4 linked regions of the Homo sapiens genome follow. The protein of the gene in region 1 purifies or fractionates together with the protein of each later gene. This does not show direct contact. Each region holds a gene or a part of one and is shown in the gene's direction. Other genes may lie near its edges.

What was found.
Region 2: the proteins of DBF4 (region 1) and RAD18 purify together in Homo sapiens (affinity purification with western blotting; one study listed by BioGRID). This does not show direct contact.
Region 3: the proteins of DBF4 (region 1) and ORC4 purify together in Homo sapiens (affinity purification with western blotting, with the first as the bait; one large-scale study listed by BioGRID). This does not show direct contact.
Region 4: the proteins of DBF4 (region 1) and CHAF1A purify together in Homo sapiens (co-immunoprecipitation; one study listed by IntAct). This does not show direct contact.

The regions. Positions count from the first base shown.
Region 1 is NC_000007.14:87,882,096-87,888,416, forward strand, and holds part of DBF4 (protein DBF4 homolog A), read left to right. Parts: intron 1-2,883; coding exon 2,884-3,063; intron 3,064-4,748; coding exon 4,749-4,799; intron 4,800-5,233; coding exon 5,234-5,303; intron 5,304-5,887; coding exon 5,888-5,964; intron 5,965-6,321. UniProt on the Homo sapiens protein: Regulatory subunit for CDC7 which activates its kinase activity thereby playing a central role in DNA replication and cell proliferation. Required for progression of S phase.
Region 2 is NC_000003.12:8,895,916-8,902,236, reverse strand, and holds part of RAD18 (E3 ubiquitin-protein ligase RAD18), read left to right. Parts: intron 1-3,189; coding exon 3,190-3,343; intron 3,344-6,321. UniProt on the Homo sapiens protein: E3 ubiquitin-protein ligase involved in postreplication repair of UV-damaged DNA. Postreplication repair functions in gap-filling of a daughter strand on replication of damaged DNA.
Region 3 is NC_000002.12:148,008,963-148,015,283, reverse strand, and holds part of ORC4 (origin recognition complex subunit 4), read left to right. Parts: intron 1-6,321. UniProt on the Homo sapiens protein: Component of the origin recognition complex (ORC) that binds origins of replication. DNA-binding is ATP-dependent. The specific DNA sequences that define origins of replication have not been identified yet.
Region 4 is NC_000019.10:4,439,461-4,445,539, forward strand, and holds the end of CHAF1A (chromatin assembly factor 1 subunit A), read left to right. Parts: intron 1-2,784; coding exon 2,785-2,881; intron 2,882-3,464; coding exon 3,465-3,565; 3' UTR 3,566-3,937; downstream 3,938-6,079. Other genes in the region: UBXN6 (UBX domain-containing protein 6), read right to left, coding at 6,038-6,079. UniProt on the Homo sapiens protein: Acts as a component of the histone chaperone complex chromatin assembly factor 1 (CAF-1), which assembles histone octamers onto DNA during replication and repair.

The DNA.
Region 1 (6,321 bases):
AACCAAAGGAAATAAGTGGTACTAACATAAGAACAGACATACAGACCAATAGAGTAGAACAGAGAACCCAGAAATAAACCCTTGCATATATGGCTAATGGATTTTCAAGAAGGGTGCCAAGACCATTCATTGGGGAAAAGATGATCTTTTCAACAGCTGGTGCTGGGAAAACTGGATATCTACATGCAGAAAAATGAAGTTGGACCTTTACTGTCATATGCGTAAATGAGCTCAAAATGGATCTAAGATTTATTTGTAAGAACTGAAACTCTTAGTGGAAAATATAGGGAGAGATCTTCATGACATTGGATTTGGCAGTGATTTCTTGGATATGATACCAAAATCATGTGCAACAAATGAAAAGTATGAAATTGGACTTCATCAGGATTAAGAACTTTTGTGCCTCAAAGGACATTTTCAGGAGTGAAAGAACGCACAGAATTGCAGGAAATCTTTGCAAATTGTACATCTGCTAAGGGATTAATATCCAGAATACTTATATAAAGAACTTCTGTGACCCAAGAACAAAAGGACAAATGGCCCAATTTAAAAATGGGCAGAGGAACTGAAAAGACATTTACTCAGAAAAGATATACTAATGGCAGATAAGTACATGAAAAAATGTTCAACGTCACTAATCATTAGGGAAATGTCAATCAGTAATCACTTAACACCTGTTAGGATGGTTACTGTTAACCAGAAAAATAACAAGTGTTAACAAAGATTTGAAGAAGTAGAACCCTTGTGCACTCTGAGTGGTAGTGTAACACGATATAGCCACCATACAAAATAGTATGGGTAGTTTCTGAAAAAAGTAAAAAATTGAATTACTATATGATTTTGCAATTCCATTTCTGGCTATACATACAAAATAATTGAAAGCAGGGTCTCAAAGATATTTATTATTCACAATAGCTAAAAAGTGTGAACAGCCTTAATGTCCAACAAGTAAATAGATAAAGAAGAGGTTGTATATACATACAATAGAATATTATTCAGCTTTAAAAAGGAATGAAATTCTAATACATGCTACAACATGGGTGAACCACAAAAAACGTGCTAAGTGAAGGAAGCCAGTTACAAAAGAACAAATGTAGGATTCCATTATATGAGTTATCTAGAATAGCCAATTTCAGAGATGGAAAGTAGAATAAAGGTTATGAGGGGCTGGGAAAAATGAGGAATGAGGAGTTACTGTTTAATGGGTACAGACTTTCAGTTTGGGATCATGGAAAAGTTATAGAAATGTTTTAGTAGTGATGGTTGCATAATGTGAGTGTACTTACTGCCGTTAAATTGTACACTTAAAAATGGTTAAAATGGCTAATTTTATATTTATCACAATAAAAGTGTATAGGAGATCGGGTTTCTTATGAAAAATTAGAACCTCTGACATTATTAGGGCCTCATATTTATGAAAATGAAGGCAGTATTTGATGTGTGAATTATTTGTATTATTGCCTGGCCCTTATAGGCATTTGAGTCTAATCCCTGGAATAAATAAATGTAGGTACATTATTTACTGTTCAATGAAAATGAATGTTGGTCGGAAAAGAAATGATTTGCACTTAACCAAGGAGGCCACTGGTCTCAGTAGCAAATGCTGCTTAATGCTTAGATGAAGTTAACTTATCTGTTACACACTTCATTTTTATTATCATTTATAGTGTGGGATCCTATAGAAAATAGATACAGCTATTTAAAATATTCTGAGAAGTCTTTCATGGATGTAAATTGTTACTGCTTATTAATGATTCACAGTTTACTTCTGCTTAGTGGGTATTTATAGTATACATATTTATACTATGTATTTTTCTAATAATATTAGTAATTCTACTTAGTATTTACTTCTCCCTATTTTTATTTTCCTGACCCTGGCGATCTTTAATAACCTTCACTTTGGTACATGTCTTTATAAGTAAATTCAGATACTTAGGCGGTGGTTTTCAAACATTTTAGTAAAGAAATTCTATTCAAACAGTCTTACACTCTTAAGCGTAAAGGTTCCCTCCATCCTGTAAGTTGAAGCCTCAAGGGAAGGTGTAATAATGATTGATTTAGACTTGTATTGTCTGCTATGGTAACCATTAGTGATATGTGGCTATTAAATTTAAAGTCTTTAAAATCAAATTTAAAAATCAGTGGCTTGAGCTAGGCGCAGTAGTGTGTGCCTGTACTCTCAGGTACTTGGGAGGTTGAGGTAGGAGGCTCTCTTGAGCCCAAGAGTTCAGGGCCAACCTGGGCAACATAACAAGACCCCATCTCTTAAGAAACAAAAAATTCAGTGGCTTAATCACACTACCAAGGCCATTTCAAATGCTTTGGTAAGTTGTATTGGACACTGCTGCTTTAGATCATGGGCTTGAGTCAGAATGCCTATGTTCAAATTATATTATTTGCTACTGGGTAACATTAAGCAAGTCACCTCTCTTCACTTTTTATCCTGCAGAAAATGTAGATAGTATCATGAGGCTGTTCCATAGATTAAGTTAATTAACATATATAAAGTATTTAAGAATAGTATCCAGCACATGCTGCTGTTGTGCTGTTATAGGAGCTCTTATACTTCCTCAGAGATCTAGGTTCAGAAAAATACAGTATAAAAACCACCAATTTACGAAATAATTGCATCAAATTGAAATTTTTTACTGTGCTTGGCATATGAAACAGTTTATGGTTTTTATGACCTAGTTGAAAATACCTTGGTGGCATGTGCCTATAGTCCCAGCTGTTCAGAAGGCCAAGGCGGGAGGATCACTTGAGAACAGGGGGTTGAGGCTGCAGTGAGCTATGATTGTGCCACTGCACTCTAGCCTGGATAACACAGTGAGACCGTGTTTCTTAAAACAAATTTATAAATAAAAATACTTTGTTCTCTTCTAGCGAGTTGAAGAATTTCTCAGCAAAGATATCAGTTATCTTATTTCAAATAAGAAGGAAGCTAAATTTGCACAAACCTTGGGTCGAATTTCTCCTGTACCAAGTCCAGAATCTGCATATACTGCAGAAACCACTTCACCTCATCCCAGCCATGATGGAAGTTCATTTAAGTCACCAGACACAGTAAGTCTCTTAAATATGCTTTGAGACTCAGAAGGGCTATATCCTGAAGATCTCCTGGTTTTTAATAGCAAGGTGGCAGTAGAGTTTACTTATGTAGAACATTTGCAAAGCCACATGATGTGTGGCTCTCTAGTCCTCAATAAAGTTGCTGTCTTTTAGGAAGGTGGGTTTTTCCTAATAGTTCTTGTGTAATCATACTCTGATTGCTTAGGTATACCCTTGTATTTAGGGATGGCGTGTAGTTTTTAGAATAATTTACAACTAAAAAGTTAAGAGCAGATCATTCTTTGAAGAAGAAATAGAAACCTTTTTAATTTTCAGAGCAGGGGTCAGCAAACTCTGGCCCATGGGCCAAATCTAGTCTGTTGCCTTTTTTGTACAACCTGCAGGTTAAGCATGGTTTTTACATTTTCAAATAGTTGTGTAAAAATATCAAAAGAATATTTTGTGACAAGTAGAAATTTTATGACATTCAGATTTCATTGTCATAATGTTTTATTGGAACACAGCCATACCTGTTTGTTTAGGTATAATCTGTAGTTGTTGTGTTTTAGGCAGAATTGAATAGTTGCTGTAGAGACCATATGGCCAACAAAGCTTAAAATGTGTACTGTCTGGTCCTTTGCATAAAAAGGTTGCCAGCCCCTATTCTAGAATTATTGAAATCACATCCCTACCACTCCATGGCCAGTAAATTGAAAGATGCAAGGAAAGACAAATTAAATTGATTTAATTGGGTGTGAGGTGGGATAGGATCAAATGAGAGATAAAATGTTTATTTCAGTTTTTAGGTTGAAGTGTAATTAAGTTATTATTTTACAATATTCTCCTCGACTTACCTATTATAGCCATTTGAAAATTAAGGAAAATGAGGAGAAAACAGAAGAAATGAGTCAGAAAGGAGCTATCACTTGAAAAAAGAGATACAATACATAGAAGAAAGAATGGAAAAGAGATCAAGAAAGGACCATGCATTCTCTGAGTTAATGCTTTTTTGGAGCAAGGAGACAATACACCAGCGATTCCAAAATAATTGTTGGTTATGGCATTTCAACGAGTTTTCCTAGTACTTTATTTAAAAAGTGAAGTAACGGCTGGGTGCGGTGGCTCACGCCTGTAATCCCAGCACTTTGGGAGGCTGAGGTGGGTGAATCACGAGGTCAGGAGTTCAAGACCAGCCTGGCCAACATAGTGAAACCACATCTCTACTTAAAAAAAATACAAAAATTAGCCGGGCATGATGGTGCGTGCCTGTAGTCCCAGCTACTTGGGAGGCTGGGGCAGGAGAATCACTTGAACCCGGGAGGCAGAGGTTGCAATGAGCTGAGATCACACCACTGTACTCTAGCTTGAGCGACACAGCAAGACTTTGTCTCCAAAAAAAAAAAAAAAAAAAAAAAGGTGAAATAACATGTGAAAACAGTATATAAAATTTATTGTTTTTCTGAAATCTCTGATTTAATAGGAACTAAAATGTAAGCCAATTAATTATAAAGAATTCCAGTGAAACCTAGCTATTTTATTTTTCATGTTGAATAGAATTTACTACAAAACCAAAGAGGTCACCCAAAAAAGAGAAACTTTTTAATATGAGACCCAAAAGTTCTCTTTTCTTAGCTGCTTTACCTTTTTAACCTGTTCTCCAGTTAAGCACTATGTTTTAAATTTTTCTGGTCTTTTTATAGGTGTGTTTAAGCAGAGGAAAATTATTAGTTGAAAAAGCTATCAAGGACCATGTAAGTAGGAACTATAAAGATTCACATTGTACATTTTGTTATTAAAAACTCAACTGGAAATTACAGATATTCTTGAAATTTTCCTTTCCACATTTTTAGGCAAAAACCTGAATCTCAGCATATATTTTATTTTACAAAGTAAAGAACTTACTTTTCATGTAGAAACATCCCCATCTTGTGGCCTTTTAAAATATTACTGGAAACTTAAAACTTGCCTTATAGTTTTCATTAAATTACCAAGGATGTGGGTATAAAGTGGGATTGATTTTAGGAATTCTATAGAAAATCTTGATGTCCTAGCTATTGTAACTCTATAGGGTCTGTTACAAATAACTGCCTTAGTGACATTAAACTTCAAATAATTGAATTTTTATTAAAATTTAGCTCATCTTAAATAATTTCCTAGAACAACCATAAAACTTTTTTTTTTACAGGATTTTATTCCTTCAAATAGTATATTATCAAATGCCTTGTCATGGGGAGTAAAAATTCTTCATATTGATGGTAAGGATTTTATAATTGTTTTTTGACAGTATTTGTTTTAAGTGTCCATGTCTGTCCTTTGGTTCCTGACTTTACATAGTGAAATTTTGATAGCAGGGATGTCTTAATCTGTTTCCTATTGCTTATAACAGAATACCTGAAACTGGGTAATGTACAAAGAAAAGGAATTTATTTCTTACAGTTATGGAGACTAAGAAGTCCTGGGTCAAAGGGCTGCATCTGGTGAGGGCCTTCTTGTTGGTGGAGACTCTGCAGAGTCTTGAGGCAGCACAGAGTATCACATGGTGAGGGGCTGAGTGTGCTAGCTCAGGTCTCTCTTTCTCTTTTTATAAAGATATCAGGTCCACTCCCATGATAACCCATTAATCCATGAATTCCCTCTTAAAGGTCCCATCTCTCAGTAAGTACTGTCACACTGGGGGTTAAATTTCAACATGAGTTTTAGAGGAGACAAACATTCAGACCATAGCATAAGAGATACCTATAATGGTAAATTCTTTATCTAATTTAACTACAAGAAAATATCACTGTTTAACTCCAAGAGTAAAATTGCTAATCTTAAAACCTTCTTTCTTTTAATAAAGACATTAGATACTACATTGAACAAAAGAAAAAAGAGTTGTATTTACTCAAGAAATCAAGTACTTCAGTAAGAGATGGGGTATGTTTTCTTTTTCAATTTTTAAAGTGACCAAGCTTGGTTTTTTTACTTACGTATTTGCAAAGTTTTCCTCCCAAGCAGAAAATATCCTAGGGGCAAGCCTGTGTATGATGTGCCTGTTTCTGTTATTCAAATAAATCGAGTGTCATTTAACTTTAGGGTTGTACTCACCAGGTAAAAGTTGTTCCTGGAATAGTGGCATAGGTCGCTTCCTCAGCCCCCTTTTGTTACTGCTGTTTTGTAACAGGTACTTTTATTTATTCTGTAGAAAAATCACTAAAATCAGCCTGTTGTATAAACGTTCCTAATGTAAGTAATGTACTTCTTTTTGGAATATAAATATGTACTATCCTTTTC
Region 2 (6,321 bases), on another chromosome or scaffold:
AGTTTGTAAACTAGATTTATTACTATGGGGAAAGTGGTTGGAAGAATGTCCTGAAGAAACAATCTCTTTTTGTCTATCGTCCTTTCAGTTAATGATAAATCATAAATTTCTTTGTTATTTAAGCTTCAGGATGTTTTCTAGATATAGAATTTATTGGTGGAGATCCTGTAAAGAGAGTGAATTATTTTTGTGATAGAACACTGGTGTTTACTTTGGATGAAATGTTCTGCCAAACAGTCTAAAGTTAACATACCTGGTAGGCTAATACAGAGCACGTTCCTTAACTTTGATCCATTTTAAAATTTGAAATTGATATTTTAATTCTATTGCCTGGGCTTTGGACCAGTGAACAAAAAAGAATCATAATGGGGGAAAGTGCGCAAGAAAATTGCTTATTATGTTTTTCTATATTGTGGTAAAATATACATAACACAATGTTTATCTTTTTAACCCTTCATAAATGTACAAGTCATTGGCATTAAGTACATTCACAATATTGTGTAACTATCACCACTGTCTATATCCAAAACATTTTCATCATTCCCAGCACAAACTTTGCACTCATGAAATAGCAACTCTTCCGTCCCCTCTGCCTCATAGCCCTGGTAATAACAATTCCACTTTCTGTGTCTATGAGTTTGCCCATTCCAGGTACCTCATATAAATGGAATTGTATAATATTTGTCTTTGTGTGTTGGCTTCTTTCTCTAAGCATAATGTTTTCAGAGTCCTTCAATGTTGTAGCACATTTTAAAATTTTAAAATATTTTAAAATTTTTGATTAAACAGTATTCCATAGTATGTATATGTCATATTTTGTTTATCCATTTATCTGCTATGGTTATTTCCACCTTTTGGTTCTTATAAATAATGCTGCTATGAGCATTGGTGGTCAGATATTTAAGTTTCAGCTTAGAGTGCGATTTCTGATTCATATGCTGGTTCTATGTTTAGAACCTTTTGAGGAATCGTTAAACTTTTCCATAGTGGCTGCATTATCTTACATTCCCACCAGCGAAGCATGAGGGTTCCAATTTCTTCACATCCTCATCAATGCTTGTTATTTTCTGATTTTTAAATTTTTTAAAAATTGTAGATGTGAAGTGGTATGTCATTGTGGTTTTGATTTGCATTTCCCTAGTGACTAATAAACAATTTGTGCATAAAGTGCTGCCTCAGTATGTAACTCATGGTCATTGAACAACTCGAACTTGTTCATGCAGTTGTTAAAGGATATTTCTAGAAACTAGTTTAGCACTTGAGAAAATCTGACTGAATATTTCCCATTAAGAAAAGTTTTTTTAATTAGTTGAACCTCTCTTGAATATCATTGATGGCTTGTATGTATTTATGAACATCAATATTACTCTTTCCGGGGTTCAGAGGTGATTGCTGCTTTTAGATTGCTGTGCATGAATGAGATGTCTGAGAGGGTAAGGTATGTGAGAGAGATGAAGACAGACACAGACTGACTGAAAAGATGGATTTTGTATAGCATCATACAACCAATATAATTGTTGCTCTTTAGAACATTGAAGTGCTCATGTAAGTGAACAAGTTGCATATTCTCTCAAGTGAAAACTTAGCCTGTTTTTGTTGTGTGTCTCTGGGGAGCTCTGATGTCTGAGCCTCACTCTTCGGGGCTCTATTTTGGAGTCCTGCATTCTGAGATCTAAGGGCAAGTAGGAAGGATAACTTATTTTTTATGCCCACAGATTATTGAATGCTGTTTGTTCCCAAGAGGGAATATATCTTCTAGAAGTGTATGTAAGAGTGGAAGAAGTAAGAAAAGAATACAGACAATGTGCAAAAATAAAAGATTGTTTTAAGTTGAATTCCTGTTCCCTGGTTTGCTAGCTTGCTTGCATGCACCTCACTAGTTGAGTAATATAGTCCCTGGGTGAACCGAGTTGACTGGGGGATTGGCTCCTCTTAATGTGATTCTGGTATCTGTTTACAAGAGGAGTTCCTAGAGGTTCAGGATGGTCATCCTGGCTAAATTCTTTTTCCCTTTTCCAGATATACATTAGAGGGTGCTGTTTTGTTTTGCTAATGATAGTTTATTGACAGCCAGATGACATTAGGAGCATATTTTTAGGAATTACACTCTTGTGAAGTATGCTGTTCTCTCAGTGTAACAAAAACTTAGAACTATTTCTGAAAAAAATTTAACTGTATGAACTTGGCAAGGTTTTTTGAAGAATTTGTTATGTTCTTTCCCCATAAATTCTCTCTGTATAATCAAACCTTGACAATTGTATTTTTAGTGTGCTTTGTTGAAGACCACTTGCCTCTACAAGTGCTTGATGAGTGATGTGTGAAAGCTCTGTTTCTCTGTGAGGAAACACATGAAAGGAGCTCTGTAGTATTATTAGCACATGTAGCTTGCATGTGAGGTACCTCCTCAGTTCCTGAAAGTTAAGGACAGCACAGATGAAAATCCCAGCAGCGTTCATGATGAGTGGGAGAATCCTGGGCACTAAAGAATCTTTCACAGATATTCTTCCACTCATATTTGTAGAAAATTGGCCATACCCATATGCCACATTTTTGTAAACACTGCATCCTTCCAGCTTTTTGGGGTCTTTATTTTTATCTGCAATAAGAGACCTTGAAATCTGAGAATATGACAAAGAATGCACGGAAATGTGATGTGTATTGGATCAAATGGAAATATTCCTTATGTCTGTTTAGTTGTCCTTTTCCATAGAGAATAATTAGATTCTAGTTAACCTAGAAAAATGTTTAGAAAAATGTCCAGATAGATTCACTATCATATAATAGTAGCAAATATTGTGGTTGTCTTATTAGTTGAATCTGTAGTCTTTTTTTGGTTATACTTCTTATGTTGGTTTGTCAGTGTTCTCTGATCTATGAAATATGCAAGAATTCCTTAGTGATATGTTAATAGAGGCCTCATTAGAATTACAAGATTCTTCCTGCTTCTGGTTTTAAAATAAATTTTATTTTTAAACTAATTAATCTTGGAAAAACATGGGCTGGACAGTATAATTAGATAGCACCATTGTAGTGTTAATTCTTGCTCTCTGGCTGTCACTAGAGTTCTGGAATCTATGTGACATATACTTCAACTTTACTAAGTGCACATGGCAGTATTAAGTGTTGCAGAAGTAATAGGCATACAGAAGTTGTAGATTTTAAGGTACTCTTAAATTTATTTTTTCCTAGGACAGGAAGATAATATGACCTCAGTAACAAACCACTTTTCTCAATCAAAGCTGGACTCCCCAGAGGAATTGGAACCTGACAGAGAAGAGGATTCTTCTAGCTGTATTGATATTCAAGAAGTTCTTTCTTCATCAGAATCAGATTCATGCAATAGGTAAGAAACATGCAGTAGTTGATTATTTTAAATATCTACTTCATATGCACATGTAGATAGATAGGCAGAAATAATTAGAATGTAGCTTTGAGGCATGGCATGGTGTGTCACTCTTACATTTCAGTCCCCTTTTACTGCTGGGTCTTCTTCACAGTGATAACAAGGCAGGATTTGGGAAGGTAGTGCAGGGATCACAGGGTGAGTTTGGTCTCTACTCTATAGCCTTTATGTAGATACTTTTCCTACCGTTGGAAAAGAAAGCATGATAGACAGTGAAATTTTTGTCAAGACGATGAGTAAAGGAGATAAAAACAACTATATTGGAAAACAGAAATGATCAGAAAGACATGGCGCATAGGAGGGTTAAGAAATGAAAAATTTAACTGAGTAAATAGAATAGATGGGGAAACTTTAAAAATGAGAAGTTTGGTAATGAGTCATTTTGAAAAGATATTTTAAAAAATATATAGGGTTTATTTTACACACACACACACACACACACACACACACACGCATGCACACACACATACCAGTTTTTGTTCCGGTCTTTCACTTAATGTTATGTCATAAATGTTACGTTTCTATAGGTTGGCACAAAAGTAATTGAAACCACAGTTACTTTTGCACCAACATAATAGCTTATGTTTATAATTGTTATTTTTTAATGAGTACAGTATTCTGTTATGTCTCTGCGCTATAATTTACCAGACCCTTCAGTTTCTGTTAGAGCTCTACATTTTTCCCAGTGTTCTACTTATGTACCTGATGCTATGGTAAAGCTCTTCCTTTGTTTCTATTGAATACTTTTTTTTTCATTTTTTTGAGACGGAGTCTCACTCTGTTGCCCAGCCTGGAGTGCGGTGGTGCGATTTCGGCTCACTGCAACCTCCACCTCCCAGGTTCAAGCATTTCTCCTACCTCAGCTTCCCAAGTGGCTGGGATTACAGGCCTGTGCCACCACGCCTGGCTAATTTTTTTTTTTGTACATTTAGTAGAGACAGGGTTTCACCGTGTTGGCCAGGCTGGTCTCAAACTCCTGACCTCAAGTGATCCACCCACCTCGGCCTCCCAAAGTGCTGGAATTACAGGCATGAGCCACCGTACCTGGCCACTTATCTTTATTATTCTGATATGTAGGCATTGCCCTCTGAATGAATTGTACTGATTTAAAATGCCTACCTATCAGAATCATTGCTTATTGCCAGTGTTATTTAATGACGCTGAAACTTAGTCAAGAGAGACACCCATTTGATTCTGGTAACTGATACCATAGAAATCAGGAAAAGATTCAAACTTAGAAGGGACTACCAGTCAAGACCAAATTCCTTTAGTAGCATCATACTATGTGGTATTTATTTATCTGGTCCAACTGGGCGTTCTCAGGGTGGGGTTAATGAGTATATTACATAGATTTGGCCTTGCTGTGCTGAAGACATGCCAGTCTTGTCACCAGCTTCATACTCAACCCCTCAGATTCTGTTATCAAGGACGCTTGTAATCAAATTGAAGCTTAAGTGGTAGAGGAAATTTTCATTTTGGGGATGTTCCTTGTCTTTCACTTCATTTTTCCTTGTGGGGTTCAGTGTTGTAAGCGATTTCTATTATCCCCCTACATTTTATTATTTGATTTTTATTTGTGTCAGTCATTTATACTGCTGACAGTTGAAAGAATAAAAACAGAATGAAGCATCCTTATTTTGTTTCCCTGCCCATTTAACTTCAGAGTTTGGTTTAGTGTCTAGTTGTAGCAGTGGATATTTTGCTAATTAAAAAAAAGAATTTCCTTTGCATTAGACTCTCAGAGAGGATAATCTTTTGTTTCTTAAGCTTGTAAGTTAAATGTAAGCACAAATGTTTAATTCTTTTTTGAACTTGAATTTTTGTAGACATCCATGAGAACTCCAATATTTGGAACTAACCTAATGTTCTTATTTTTTTTTTCCTTAAAAAAATACAGCAGTTTACTTTTTATAAGAATTTAAAGTGATTGACTAAAAGGAATGTATTCTTTCTCTCTCTTTTTCTTCTATCTTTAATACAATGTTTCCTAACCCTTTTCTTCAGCACACATAGCAAATGATAGTATTTCTGTGGCATGCCAGGATAAAGAGATGATGCCGCCATGGGTTTCAGCCACCCTGCGTCTCACTGTGGGCTAGGGATTAATGCCTAGTGTACAACTACCCCGTGGGTGAGGGAGAGAACACACCAAATAGGAAGCTTAGCTTTTATTATATGAATACACCGTTGAACAGTTGAATAGGTGGGACATACATGGACAAATAGGCTCATGGTGCTTCTGTGGTAGAAAGGACAGCAAGAGCATTTGAAGCGCCCCTGTTTTGGGGCAGGTAAGGCAATGATTGAGTCAGTCGAAAAAGAAATTAAGTGACTTAATCTCATGATCCTAATGAATGGTAAAGCCAGTTTTCTGAATTCAGATATAATGCTTTCTTCTGCTTTTTTTTGCTGTTCTCCAAATCTCAGAAGGCACTGAAGCCAGATTAAAAGTTAAATGAACAGGTGACATATTAAAGTTACAGGTTTATGAGTTTCCCCACTCCACTGTTTTCATGTAGCTCCAGAACCTTAGAGGATAATGGAAGACAGATTCAGTCCAATGCTGTTTTTCAGAGTAGAATCTATCATGTTTTTAAAGTTAAAAATTATCAGTGTACATATTAAATACAAGTTTTTCAGATTTAGAATTTGTTCTTCTGAAAATAAGAGTCCTGAATGTCTCCTGGACAGAAAACCCTGGTTCTGGGGGTTTTAGGATCCAGAAGACAGCATGCCCAGATGGGCTTGGGTTAGTTCACTTGATTTGCACGTGAAAGATGTGAGGGTACAGGAACTGTGTGGGTTGGGGTGGTCAGAAAAGAGGGAACAGATATGGCTATAGCAAGAGAGAATTTTTGCAGGTTGTTTTTTAGGACTAGATCTAAACATTTTAAAATCAGCATTTCAACTAGGATTCC
Region 3 (6,321 bases), on another chromosome or scaffold:
AACAATGCAAAAACCACAATTAATTTTGTACCAACCTAATAATTCATGCTGCTTTGAAGGAAATCTCTCTTTTAGAATTTTTTTTTGTTTGTTTCTTTTTTTGGTTGTAATTTTTCTGCTGTTTCACTCTAATCTTTTTGTGTGGAATTCTTTTCTTCTTTTTTTTTTTTCTCCTAGTCAAGTGTGGTTGTGGGGGTAGAGGAAATGTTCAATCATCGTGTGGCATTCTTTATCTTGCCCTGTATTCATCGAGATTATTAGATCAATGCATCAGTATCTTTTTAAAGATATTGGTGATATTCTTACTGTTTCTGGTTACCTGCTGAAAATTACAATCTTGCTTTTATTGGCCTAGTATAGTTGCTCCTTAGTATCTGCTGGAAATTGGTTTCAGAACCCCGTGCAGATACCACAATCCACAGGCAGCTCAAATTCCTTATATAACATGCCATCATGTTTGCATACGGCCTACACACATCCTCCCACGTATTTTAAATAATCTCTAGATTGCTTATGGTACCTAATACAATGTAGATGCTATGTAAATATTGTTATACTGTCATGGCTTTTTAAAAATTTCTATTATTTTTTATAGTCGTGTTTTTAAAAATATACATGTATTTTTAATCCTTGGTTGAGTGAATCTGTGGCTATGAAGGGCCGACTATATTCATAGTTCATTTGTTGTTTGTTGAAGATAATTCCAGTTTCTAAATTTTCTAAGTCTGTGTCTGCTAGCTTATGATATTTTTTTCTTGTGTGCCTTGAGTACCAGTTGTATTTAAAAAATTATAGGAATATATGAGTCCTAGAATAATAGTATCTTTTTTAAGAAGGTACATTTTTCTAGGAAAGGTCTCTAGGAGTGCTTTCAGTCCCAAGTCACTATTCATGTTCAAGAGTTGGGATTCCTTCTGTTATACACATGACATTAAGGAAGACTTTAAGATCATGAATTCTATTTTCCTTCAATTTCCTCTTATCCTAATGATGTTGTCCTTAAACTCTGAACATAAATTGGGTAGTTTATCTGAGTCCCCAGCTTTGTTAGGCAATGTGCTTTTATTTTTATTTTTGATTTTGATTTTTTGTGTTTATTTTTATTTTAAATGAGGTCTCGCTGTATTGCACACAATCATCCTGAATTCCTGGGCTCAAGCTATCCTCCTGCCTTGGCCTGTCAAAGGATAGGATTACAGGCATGAGCCACCACACCTGGCCTTGTGCTTTGATTTTTTTACCATAGACCGGCACATCTTCCATTAGCTCAGCCTTTTTTCTCAGCCTTTTCTTCTAGACAGGAAAATGTCCTCAGAACAAAAGTTACTTGGTGTATGGTTTGTTTCTGGTTTACCTTCACATGGAATTTGGTAAGTAATTTCACATTACTTTATTTCATTCATTATTTAGTTTTTTTGTTGGCGTCAGCAGAAAGGTTGGTCCTGTCTGCCACTACCATAAATAAAACCCTAATTGTCTTTCTTTTTTACTTCTGAGATTTGATTTTAATATATTTATGCTTTGAGCCAAAATTTTTTTAACTTAACTCATATATTTAAAAATTTTAATTTTTAATTACTATGGATACATAAAATGGGGAGTATGTGATATTTGATATAAGCATACAATGTGTAATGATCAAATCAGGTAATTGGGATATCCATTACCTCAAGTATTTGTCATTTCTTTGTGTTAGGGACATTTCATTTCCACTCATTTAATTGTTCTAAAACATACACTAAATTATTGTTAGCTGTAATTACTATATTGTGCTACTGAACACTATATTTTATTCCTTCTATCTAACTATATTTTTCTACCCATTAACCATCTCCTCTTGATTCTCCTCTCAACACTACCCTTCCCAGCCTCTGCTAACATCTTTTTACTCACTATCTCTATGACTTCAATTTTTTTGAAGCTTCCACATATGGGTGAGAACATGTGATACTTGTCTTTCTATGCCTGGCTTATTTCCCTTATAATGTCAGTCACATCCATATTGTTGAAAATGACAGGATTTCATTTTTTTTTTATGGCTGAATAACATTCCATTGTGTATATGTACCACATTTCTTTATCCATCCATTGATTGACAGTTAGGTTGATTCCATATCCTGGCTATTGTGTATAGTGCTGCAGTTAACATGGGAGTACAGATACCTTTTATATACTGATTTCCTTTCTCTTGGGTATATACACAGTAGTGGGATTGCTGGATTATAGTTCTATTTGTTGTGTTTTTAGGAAGCTCCATACTGTTCTCTGTTGTGACTGTGCCAGTTTACATTTCCACCAACAGTGTACAAGGGTTCCCCTTTCTCCACATTCTCACCAGCATCTGATATTGACTGCCTTTTCGATAAAAGCCATTTTAACTGGAGTGAGTTGATACCTCATTATAGTTTTGATTTGTATTTCTCTGATTATTAATAATGTGGAACATTTTTTTCATATGCCTGTTTGCCATTTGTATGTCTTTTTGAGAAATGTCTCCTCAGATCTTTTGCCCATTTTAAAATCAGATTTTTTTTTCCTATTGAGTCGTTTGAGATTCTTATATATTCTGGTTATTAATCCTTTGTCAGATATTAGTTTGAAATATTTTCTCCCATTCTACATGTTATATCTTCATTTTATTGTTTTCATTGCTGTGCAGAAGCTTTTTGGCTTGGAGAGATCTCATTTGTTGTTATTTTATTTTATTTTCTTGCTTTAGTTGCTTGTGTTTTTGAGGTCTTATTTAAGAAGTCTTTGCCTAGACCAATGTCCTGGAGTTTTTGCCTAATGGTTTCCTTGATTAGTTTCATAGATGTAAGTCTTTAATGCATTTTTCTTTGATTTTTGTATATGGCAAGAGTTGGGGTCTACTTTTGTTGTTCTGAATGTGGGCATCCAGTTTTCCCAACACCATTTATTGAAGAGACTGTCCTTTCCCAATGAGTGTTTTTGGCACCTTAGTAAAAAACTAATTGGCTTTAAATACACAGATTAATTTCTGGACTCTCTGTTCTGTTGTTCTACATGTCTGTTTTTATGCCACTATCGTGCTATTTTGGTTACTATAGCGTTGTAGTATATTTTGAGGTTTGGTAGTGTGGTAAGTCTACCAGTTACCAGCTCTGTTCTTTTTGGTCAGGATTGTTTTGGCTATTTGGGGTCTTTTGTGCTTCCATACAATTTTAGGATTTTTTTTTTCTATTTCTGTGAAGAATGTCATTGCTCTTGATAGGGATGGCTTTGAATCTGTAGATTGCTGTGGGAAGTATTGTCATTTTAACAATACAATTTTTTTCAACCCATGAGCATGGGATGTCTTTTCATTTGTTTGTGTCCTCTTCAATTAATTTCATCAATGTTTGATAGTTTGCATTGTAGTTGGTTAAGTTTATTTCTAGATATTTAATATTATTTGTAGCTATTGTAAATGGGATCACCTTCTTGATTTCTTTTTCAGATAGGTTGTCACTGTTGGCATAGAGAAATTCTATGGATTTTTGTGTGTTGATTTTGTATTCTGCAATGTTACTGAATTTATTAGTTCTAATAGTCGTTTGTTGGAGTCTTTAGGTTAGTATAAGATCACATGAGCTGCAAACAATGATAATTTTACTTACTCCTTTCCAATTTAAATGCCCTTTATTTCATTCTCTTGTCTGTTTACTCTGGCTAGGACTTCTGTTACTAACTTGAGTAATAGTGGTGAAAGTGCCCATCCTTCTTCTAGATCCTAGAATAAAGGCTTTCAGTTTTTCCCCCATTCAGTCTGATACTAACTGTGGGTTTGTTGTGTATGGCTTTATCATGTTGAGGGATGATCCTTCTGTCCCCAGTTTGCTGAGAGTTTTTATGAAGGGATATTGAATTTTATCAAAAAAGATTTTTTTGGCATCTATTGAAATGACAATACACTTTGTGTCCTTCATTCTGTTGATACCATGTATCACACTGATTGATTTACATATGTTGAACCATCCTTACATCCCTGGGATGAATCCCACTTGATTATGATGATCTTTTTAATGTGCTGTTGAATTTGGTTTGCTGTGTTTTGTTGAAGATTTTTATATCTATTTTCATCAGAGATACTGGCCTGTAGTTTCTTTTTTGTTGTTGTTGTATCGTTGTCTGGTTTTGGTATCAGAATAAATCTGGGGCCAGGCATGGTAGCTCACGCCAGTAATCCCAGAACTTTGGGAGGCTGAGGCAGGCAGATCTCTTGAAGCCAGGAGTTTGAGACCAGCCTGGCCGACATGGTGAAACCCCATCTCTACAAAAAATACAAAAATTAGCTGGGCATGGTGGCTTATGCCTGTAATCCCAGCTAATCTGGAGGCTGAGGCAGGAGAATCGCTTGAACCCAGTAGGTGGAGGTTGCAGATCACCTGGGCAACAGAGTGAGACTCTGTCTCAAAAAAAAAAAAAAAAAAAAAAAGAATAAATCTGGCCTCATAAAATGAATTTGGAGATCCTCCTTGATTTTGGAGAATGATTTGAGTAGGATTGATGTTAGTTCTTCTTTAAATGTTTGGTAGAACTCAGTGAAGCCATGAAGTCCTGGCCTTTTCTGTGATGGGGGACTTTTTATTATTGTTTCTATCTTGAAACTTATTATGGGTCTATTTCGATTTTGGTTTTCTTAATGTTTCATTCTTCTTAGGCTGTATGTGCCTAGGAATTTATTCGTTTCTTCTAGGTTTTACAATTTATTGGCATGCAGTTGTTCAAATGGTCTCCAATGATCCTTTGAATTTTTGTGATATCAATTGTAATGTCTCCTTTTTTGTCTCTGATTTTATTTGGATCTTCTTTTTTTTCTTTTCTTAGTCTGGGTAAAGGTTCATTGATTTTGTCTGTCTTTCCAAACAACCCTTTTCATTTCATTGATCTTTTCTATTTTTTTGTCTCAATTTTATTTCTGTTTTTTATTATTTATTTTCTTGTTTTCTTTATTATTTCTCTTCTTAATTTGGGGCTTGGCATGCTCTTGCTTTTCTAGTTCTTTAAGATGCATTACTAGGTTGTTTATTTCTTGGTTTTCTACTTTTTGATTTGCACATTTATTGCTATAAACATTCCCTTTAGTGTTAGCTTTAACTGTATCTCATAAGTTTTAGTAGGTTGTGTTTCCATTTTCATTTGTTTCAAGACATTTTTTAATTTCCTTAATTACTTCATTGGTTGTTCAGGCACGTATTGTTTAATTCTTATATGTTTGTATAGTTTCCAAAGTTCCACTTGTTATTTATTTCTACTTTTATTCCATTGTGGTTAGAAAATATACTTTTTATCAGACTTGTTTTGCGGCCTAACATGATGGTGCTCTTTTTGGATTTCTGTTTGCATGCAATGTCTCTTTCCATCTTTTGGTCTATCTATGTTTTTATAAATGAAGTGGGTTTCTTATATGTAGCAGGTAGTAGGGCCTTGTTTTGTTTAGCCCTTCAGCTCTTCTGTGTCTTTTGATTGGAGAATTTAGGATCCATCCTTGAGAAATGTTCCATGTGCTAAGGAGAAGAATGTATTCTGCGGCTGTTGGATGACAGCTTCTGTAAATGTCTATTAGGTCCATTTAATCTATAGTGCAGATTAAATTCATTGTTTCTTTCTGTCTAGATGATCTGTCCAATGGTGAAAGTGGGCTGTTGAAGTCCCAAGTCATTACTGTATTGGGTTCTGTCTCCTTAACTCTAATACACTTGACTCTATATATCTAGATGCTTCTGTGTTGGATAGATATGTATTTATAATTTTTATGTCCTCTTGCTGAATTAAAACCTTTTGTATTATATGATAACCTTTTTTTCTTTCTTCATAGTTTTTATGTTGAAATCTATTTTATCTAAAAATAGATACAAAGCTACTTGGGCTCTTTTTGGGTTTCTGTTTGGTGCAGTATCTTTTTCCGTCTTTTTGTTGTTAGTCTATGTTTTTATAGTGAAGAATTTAGTCCATTCACATTCAGTATTATTATTGATAGGTAAGGACTTACTACTGCCTTTTTATTGTTGTTCTGGTTATTTTCTAGGGCTTTTCCCCCATTTTTTTCCTTGTTTTCCTTTGTGATAATTATTTTTTGGTAGTATGTTTTAATTTCTTGCTTTTTATTTTTTTGTGCACCTATTAGAGGTTTTTGTTTTGTGGTTACTATGAGGTTAGCAAATAACAATTTATAGCCAATTATTTGCAACTGATGACAACTCTGATTGCAAAGAAAAGAAAAAATACACGCACAGAAAAAACTAAAAACCTGTACACTTCTACTCCATCCCTTCACTTTTTGACTTTTTGTCTCTATATATTTTTATATTTTAAGTTTTG
Region 4 (6,079 bases), on another chromosome or scaffold:
GCTCAGCACAGTGGGACTCGGTGTTATGTGTTAAATCCTGTCTTCAGCCTAGAGGGTGAAGAGTGGTGATTGCTCTGAAAAATTTTGGATCCAAGAAAAGCCTAATGTGTCAACGCGTCTCCTGTGTGGAGGGAGGGCCCAGTGACTTGAGGTGGCTCTGAAGAAATTGGCATGTTCTTTTGTTTAACGTCCCCAGACACCTCCAGATCAGAATGTCCCTCCTCAGCAGCGTCTACAGGGGACTCTTAGACTCTTCTTTGCTTAACTATTCTTTCAAAAAGGTAGTTGAAAATGGCCGTAGGCCAGGCTCAGTGGCTCATGCCTGTAATCCCAGCACTTTGGGAGGCTGAGGCAGGAGGATCACTTGAGACCAGGAGTTGAAGGGTGCAGTTACCTGTGATTGCACCACTGCACCACAGCCTGGGTGACAGAGCAAGATGTTTCTCCTGTGTCCTCACAGGGTCAACCCATGCTGCCTGGGGAGAGGGACAGCCTGGGCTCCCAGCCACTGAAGAGAGGATCCAGGAGGGGAGCCCCTACCCAGGAATTGATGAGGCTACGGTAGGAACCCAGTCTGCCTGGCCAGGCACTGTGCTCTTACATGACAGCCCATGAAACCAGTCTATGGCCTGACCGTTGTGTTGCTGTGCGGTCACTTTTCTAGGTTTTTGTAGAGGAAGAATTCCTGGAATTTTTTGAGGACTATCCTCCCTACTGAAATAAGTGTGGCTGTCTGTCCTGGGATGGGCTTGTGTTCATGCACAGAGAGGGTAAGCACTGACGTGGAGGCTCATGGTGGCCTCTACGCATCCTGTCTTTCTCCTTTGGTGAAAGCAAATGGAAACAGCTCAGGAATCTTACTAGGGTCAGGTGCGGTGGCTCACACCTTGTCATCCCAGCACTTTAGGAGGCCGAGGTGGAAGGATGGCTTGAGCCCAGGTTGAGACCAGCCTGGGCAACATAGTGACACCCCCTTGTCTCTACTTAAAAAAAAAAAAATTAGCTGGGCGTGATGGCGGGTGCCTGTAGTCCCATCTTCTCAGGAGGCTGAGGCAGGAGAATGGTGTGAACCCAGGAAGTGGAATTTGCAGTGAGTCGAGGTCTAAAAAAATAATAATAATAATTCACAAGTCACAGTCATCACTTCACATCAGGGACGTGTTCTGAGAGGTGTCCTCAGGCAATTTCATGGTTGGGTGGGGCTAGGTTGCTCTTACACATCCTAGATGGACAGCCTGCCACACGCCTGGGCCGTGTGGTACATAGCCCAGGGCTCCTGAGCTGTGGACCTGTGCAGCAGGTGACTGACTGCTCCATCCTGCAGGCACTTGTAACCCAGTGGTATATGTGTCTTTAACATAGAAAAGGCACAGCAGAGGCCAGGTGCGGTGGCTCATGCCTGTAATCCCAGCACTTTGGGAGGCTGACGTGGGCGAATCCTGAGGTCAGGAGTTCGAGACCAGCCTGGCCAACATGGCGAAACCCCCGTCTGTACTAAAAATACAAAAGATTAGCTGGGCGTAGTGGCGGGCACCTGTTAAAAAAAAAAAAAAAGGCACAGCAAAAATATCGTTGCGGCTGGGGCAGTGGCTCACGCCTGTAATCCCAGCACTTTGGGAGGCCAAGGCAGGCGGATCACTTCAGGTCAAGAGTTCGAGACCAGCCTGGCAACATGGTGAAACCCCATCTCTACTAAAAATACAAAAATTAGCCGGGTGTGGTGGCAGGTGGCTGTAATCCCAGCTACTCAGGAGGCCGAGGCAGGAGAATCACTTGAACCTGGGAGTCAGAAGTTGCAGTGAGCCAAGATCGCACCACTGCACTCCAGCCTGGATATATGGCAAGACTCTGTCTCAAGATTTATATATATTAAATAAAAATACAGTTGTCTGTAATCCCAGGACTTTGGGAGGCTGAGGTGGGTAGATCATAAGGTCAGGAGTTTGAGACCAGCTTGACCAACATGGTGAAACCCCGTCTCTACTAAAAATACAAAAATTAGCTGGGCGTGATGGCATACACCTGTAATCCCAGCTACTCAGGAGGCTGAAGAACGAGAATCGCTTGAACCCGGGTGGCGGAGGTTGCAGTGAGCTGAGATTGTGCCACTGCACTCCAGCCTCAGTGACAGAGTGAAACTCCCGTCTCAAAAATAAAAAATAAAGGCCAGGCATGGTGGCTCACACCTGTAATCCCAGCACTTTGGGAGGCTGAGGCGGGCGGATCACGAGGTCAGGAGATCAAGACCATCCGGATAACACGATGAAACCCCGTCTCTACTAAAAATACAAACTGGGCGTGGTGTCAGGCGCCTGTAGTCCCAGCTACTCAGGAGGCTGAGGCAGGAGAATGGCGTGAATCCGGGAGGCGGAGCTTGCAGTGAGTCGAGATCGCGCCACTGCACTCCAGCCTGGGCAACAGAGCGAGACTCCGTCTCAAAAAAAAATAAAAATAAATAAATACAGTTGTAATCTGATGGGGCCACTATCAGGTATGCGGCCTGTCACTGACTGGAAATTATTCTGCAGTTGGCAATGATGGCTGTTTTTGGAGATCTGAATCCAGTTCATTTGAGGGAACCCCCAAGGTTCTCTGGTTGTGGCCTCTTGAATAAACCTCTCACATTTGGACAGTTTGTTACCAAATTGGGTTCTGGATGTTGGTTTCCTTCCGTGTTGGGGGTGGGAGGAAGGTGTCACACCTGTGGAGTTCCCCCCGCTACCGCACTGGCACCAGGGTGGCTGCTGCCTGCAGTGCTGATGGCCGTGTACCCTGTCTGTCCAGATTGGTGCTGAAGACATGGACGGCTTCCAGGCAGACACGGAGGAGGAGGAAGAGGAGGAGGGCGACTGTATGATCGTGGATGTCCCGGATGCTGCGGGTGAGAAGGGCTGTAGATAGCAGAACGCACTGGTGAGGTGGGCGCTGGAGGTAAACCTCAACAGAGAAGGGATGGGGCTGCCTAAGACTAGCTCCACTGTGAGCAGCCAGGAGGGCTTGCAGCTGGAAGTGGCTCCTGCCCTGCCACATCCTCGGGCGGGCTGGGCCGTGGGTGCTGACCATGCCAGGCATCGTTCTGGCCGCAGAGCCACAAGGGCCTATGCTGGGAGTCTCAGGTGGTTGTGACGTTAGATGGGGGTCAGGGAAGGCTGCACTGAGGCAGCAAGGGAGGGCCAGGTGGATTTCTGGAGCACTCGCCAAAGAGGAAGTACAGAGGCCCTGCAGCAGGCTGCGTGGGAGGAGTGTGCCCGGGTGGTGGGGGGCAGGCAGGGTCAACCTGAGAGCAGGTGAGCAGGTCACCTCTAGAAGAGGCACAACGCCCCAGCCTCTGCCTGTCCCCACTGTCAGGTGGAGGGTCCCGCCCTGGGGTTGTTGCAGGCCCCATGAGGCAGCAGGGTGGGGTCTTCCCCCAGGGAGCCCAGAGGGCCCAGCCAGCTCAAGACCCTCCCTCTCTTGCCCTGCAGAGGTCCAAGCCCCGTGTGGAGCCGCTTCCGGAGCTGGGGGTGGTGTGGGGGTGGACACCGGCAAGGCCACCCTGACCGCGAGCCCACTGGGTGCATCCTGAGAGCAGGGGTGACGTATGTAGAATGCTTAGGGTGTCCTCCCCACAGAGCAGATACTTGAACCGACTCAATTCCTGTGTAAAGAGCACTTTGTCCTGCTTCACGGACCTCCCCAAAGTGTGCAGAGTTCTATATAGGATGCTGGATTAGTTCCTTTGATATTTGTAAAAATTCCCCCAAGAGCCGCATATGAATCTGCCCTTTAATAAAGCATTATTGAGATTGCTGGCCTATTGGGGAAGCCTGCGGGCACAGGAGCAGGCGTGGAATCCAATACTTGTAAATGAATTGAAGCGTCAGGACCACCCGCCTGGCCACGTGCGCGGGCCCCTGGACCTAACGAGGCAGTGTATAAACTTATTCTCTAGCCCTGAGCTGCTCTGTCTGTCTTTTCCGAAAACATTGTGTTTCTCTGAGAGTGCACCTTGCCCATGGCCCGGCCCCATGTGGTGCCTGGTGTCTGGGGCCAGCCTTGTGCCCTGCAACAGCACCGTCCCATCTGTTTGTCACTAAGTCACCCTCATACCAGGCTGACCTGGGTCAAGGTGCGGGTTTTTCCGCACGTGCTTCTGTCCGGCGATCCCTCCTGCCCTGGGTTGGGGGGTTAGGAGAGGGTGTTCCCAGAGACCTGCTAGGGTCACCTCCCTGAACCCGGAGCTGCTGGGAGCCGAGTTTGGCTTCGAGTCTGAGGCTTTGTGAGAGCCCACCCCAGGTCAGGTGCATCTTTTGCGAGTGCTGGAGCTAGAAGGTGACCTCCTCCCCGCCCCAGGTTGAGTGGGCTTTATCCACACTGTCCGAGGGAGGACAGGCGACAGCCGCTGTGGTACTGAGCAGCTCAGAGCACACGCAGCCACGGGGAGGGTCACGCTCGCCAGTCCTGCTCTTCCCAGCCACACCCCACCTGAAGTCCTAAGCTTCCCTTCAGGGAACCCTATGTGGGAAAAGTGTCAGCTACCTCCATCCACCCAGTCAGGGACGGCAGGGCGCCCGGGCCAGGCCTTCCTGCTGGGAAGCAGGATTCAGCTGTGCCTGAAGCAGAGGCTGCCCCTGTGCCACACCTTTGATGAGCTTTACAGGGGCTCCCGACAACCCGGAATCAGGTCCTGGGGCCTGCAGGACGCAGGACTGGAGTGACAGCCTCCATTCTCAACAGGCCGGGTGCCCACACCAGCTGGGGCAGTGCCGGGGGCGAGGGAGGGACCAATGCAAGGTCAGGGGCACGAGCATAGGCCCCGGGCACCTCCCCCAGGTGCAGACCTGCATCCCCAAGTCAGCAGTGGGGCCGGGGCACACATGCCTTCCACACTGCAGGGCAGAGTCCCTGTGTCTCCTGGGGCTGCTGTACCACAAACCTGGTGGCTTAAAGCAAGTCACCATCTCACAGCTTGGGGGTCAGAGTGCACACATGCCCCGCCAGGCTAACATCAAGCTGTGGGCAGGACCAGGCCCTCCTGGAGAGTTTCCCAGTGCTCGGAGGCGCTGCATCCCTCAGCTCGGGGTCCCTTCCTCCACCTTCACAGCCATGCGCAGCCTCTTCCAGTCTCTCTCTGATTCACCCTCCTGCCACCTCTTGTGAGGACACTGGGTCCCGGACCACCCAGGATCATCTCCCAGCTCAAGACCTTTCATCATACCCAAGCCCCTCTTGCCAGGTGAAGTTGCGCATCTGCAGGTTCCAGGAATAGGATGTGGCCGTCTCAGGACACCCTGTCCCTCTGGCCACAGGGAAGCCAGGCCTGTGACAGCACTCGCCTCCCCTGCAGGGACTGGGCCTTTGTGGGCACAGCACAGCCTCCCCTAGCGCACGGGACTTCCTCCCCAGGTGGGTGGCTCATCGGGCACTTGTGGCCAGGTGCTGGCCTGAGAACAGGTATCCACATGGTCCCACCTTGACAGGGAGCCACACCCAGCCCCCAAGCCATCCGCTCTTCAGCAGGTGGGCCTGCCCTGTGTCCCACGGTTTCAACGGAGAACCAAGAAACTATATTCAAACAACCTGTTTATTTGGGCTTATGATTTACTAACTGCAGGTCTATGTGCAGGAAGGCCAGCATCCCCTCCTGCCGTTGTCACCCACATCCACAGAGCAGCCCTAGTGCCAGGTGCAGCCACTGCCACCCACGGCACACGGGAACAGGACCCATGCTGCAGGCCTGCTCTCCTGCCCAGGGAGATGCCACGTGTGTCTGTCCGGCAGCTTCATGACACAGTTACCAAGCAGCTAGGGAGGGCTTAGATTTGTTGGTGTCCCCAGGCCTCTCCCTCGGGGGCTTGGGCGCATCCCCACAGCCCCCAAGGGATGGGGGCTCTGCCACGGGGCCCAATTCCACAGCTCCACGGCTGGCGCCCCTCCCGTGCCCATGGGGCAGAGCCAAGTATTTCCAGAGGTGGCTTGGAGGCCCTGGGGTGGCGGGGAGAGGAACAGGGAGAGCATGAGACAGACCCACAGGGCTGAGGCCAACCCTGCTTTTATTTCACAAGAGCTTCTCGATGGCTGACAGGAGCTCGGGTTTCAG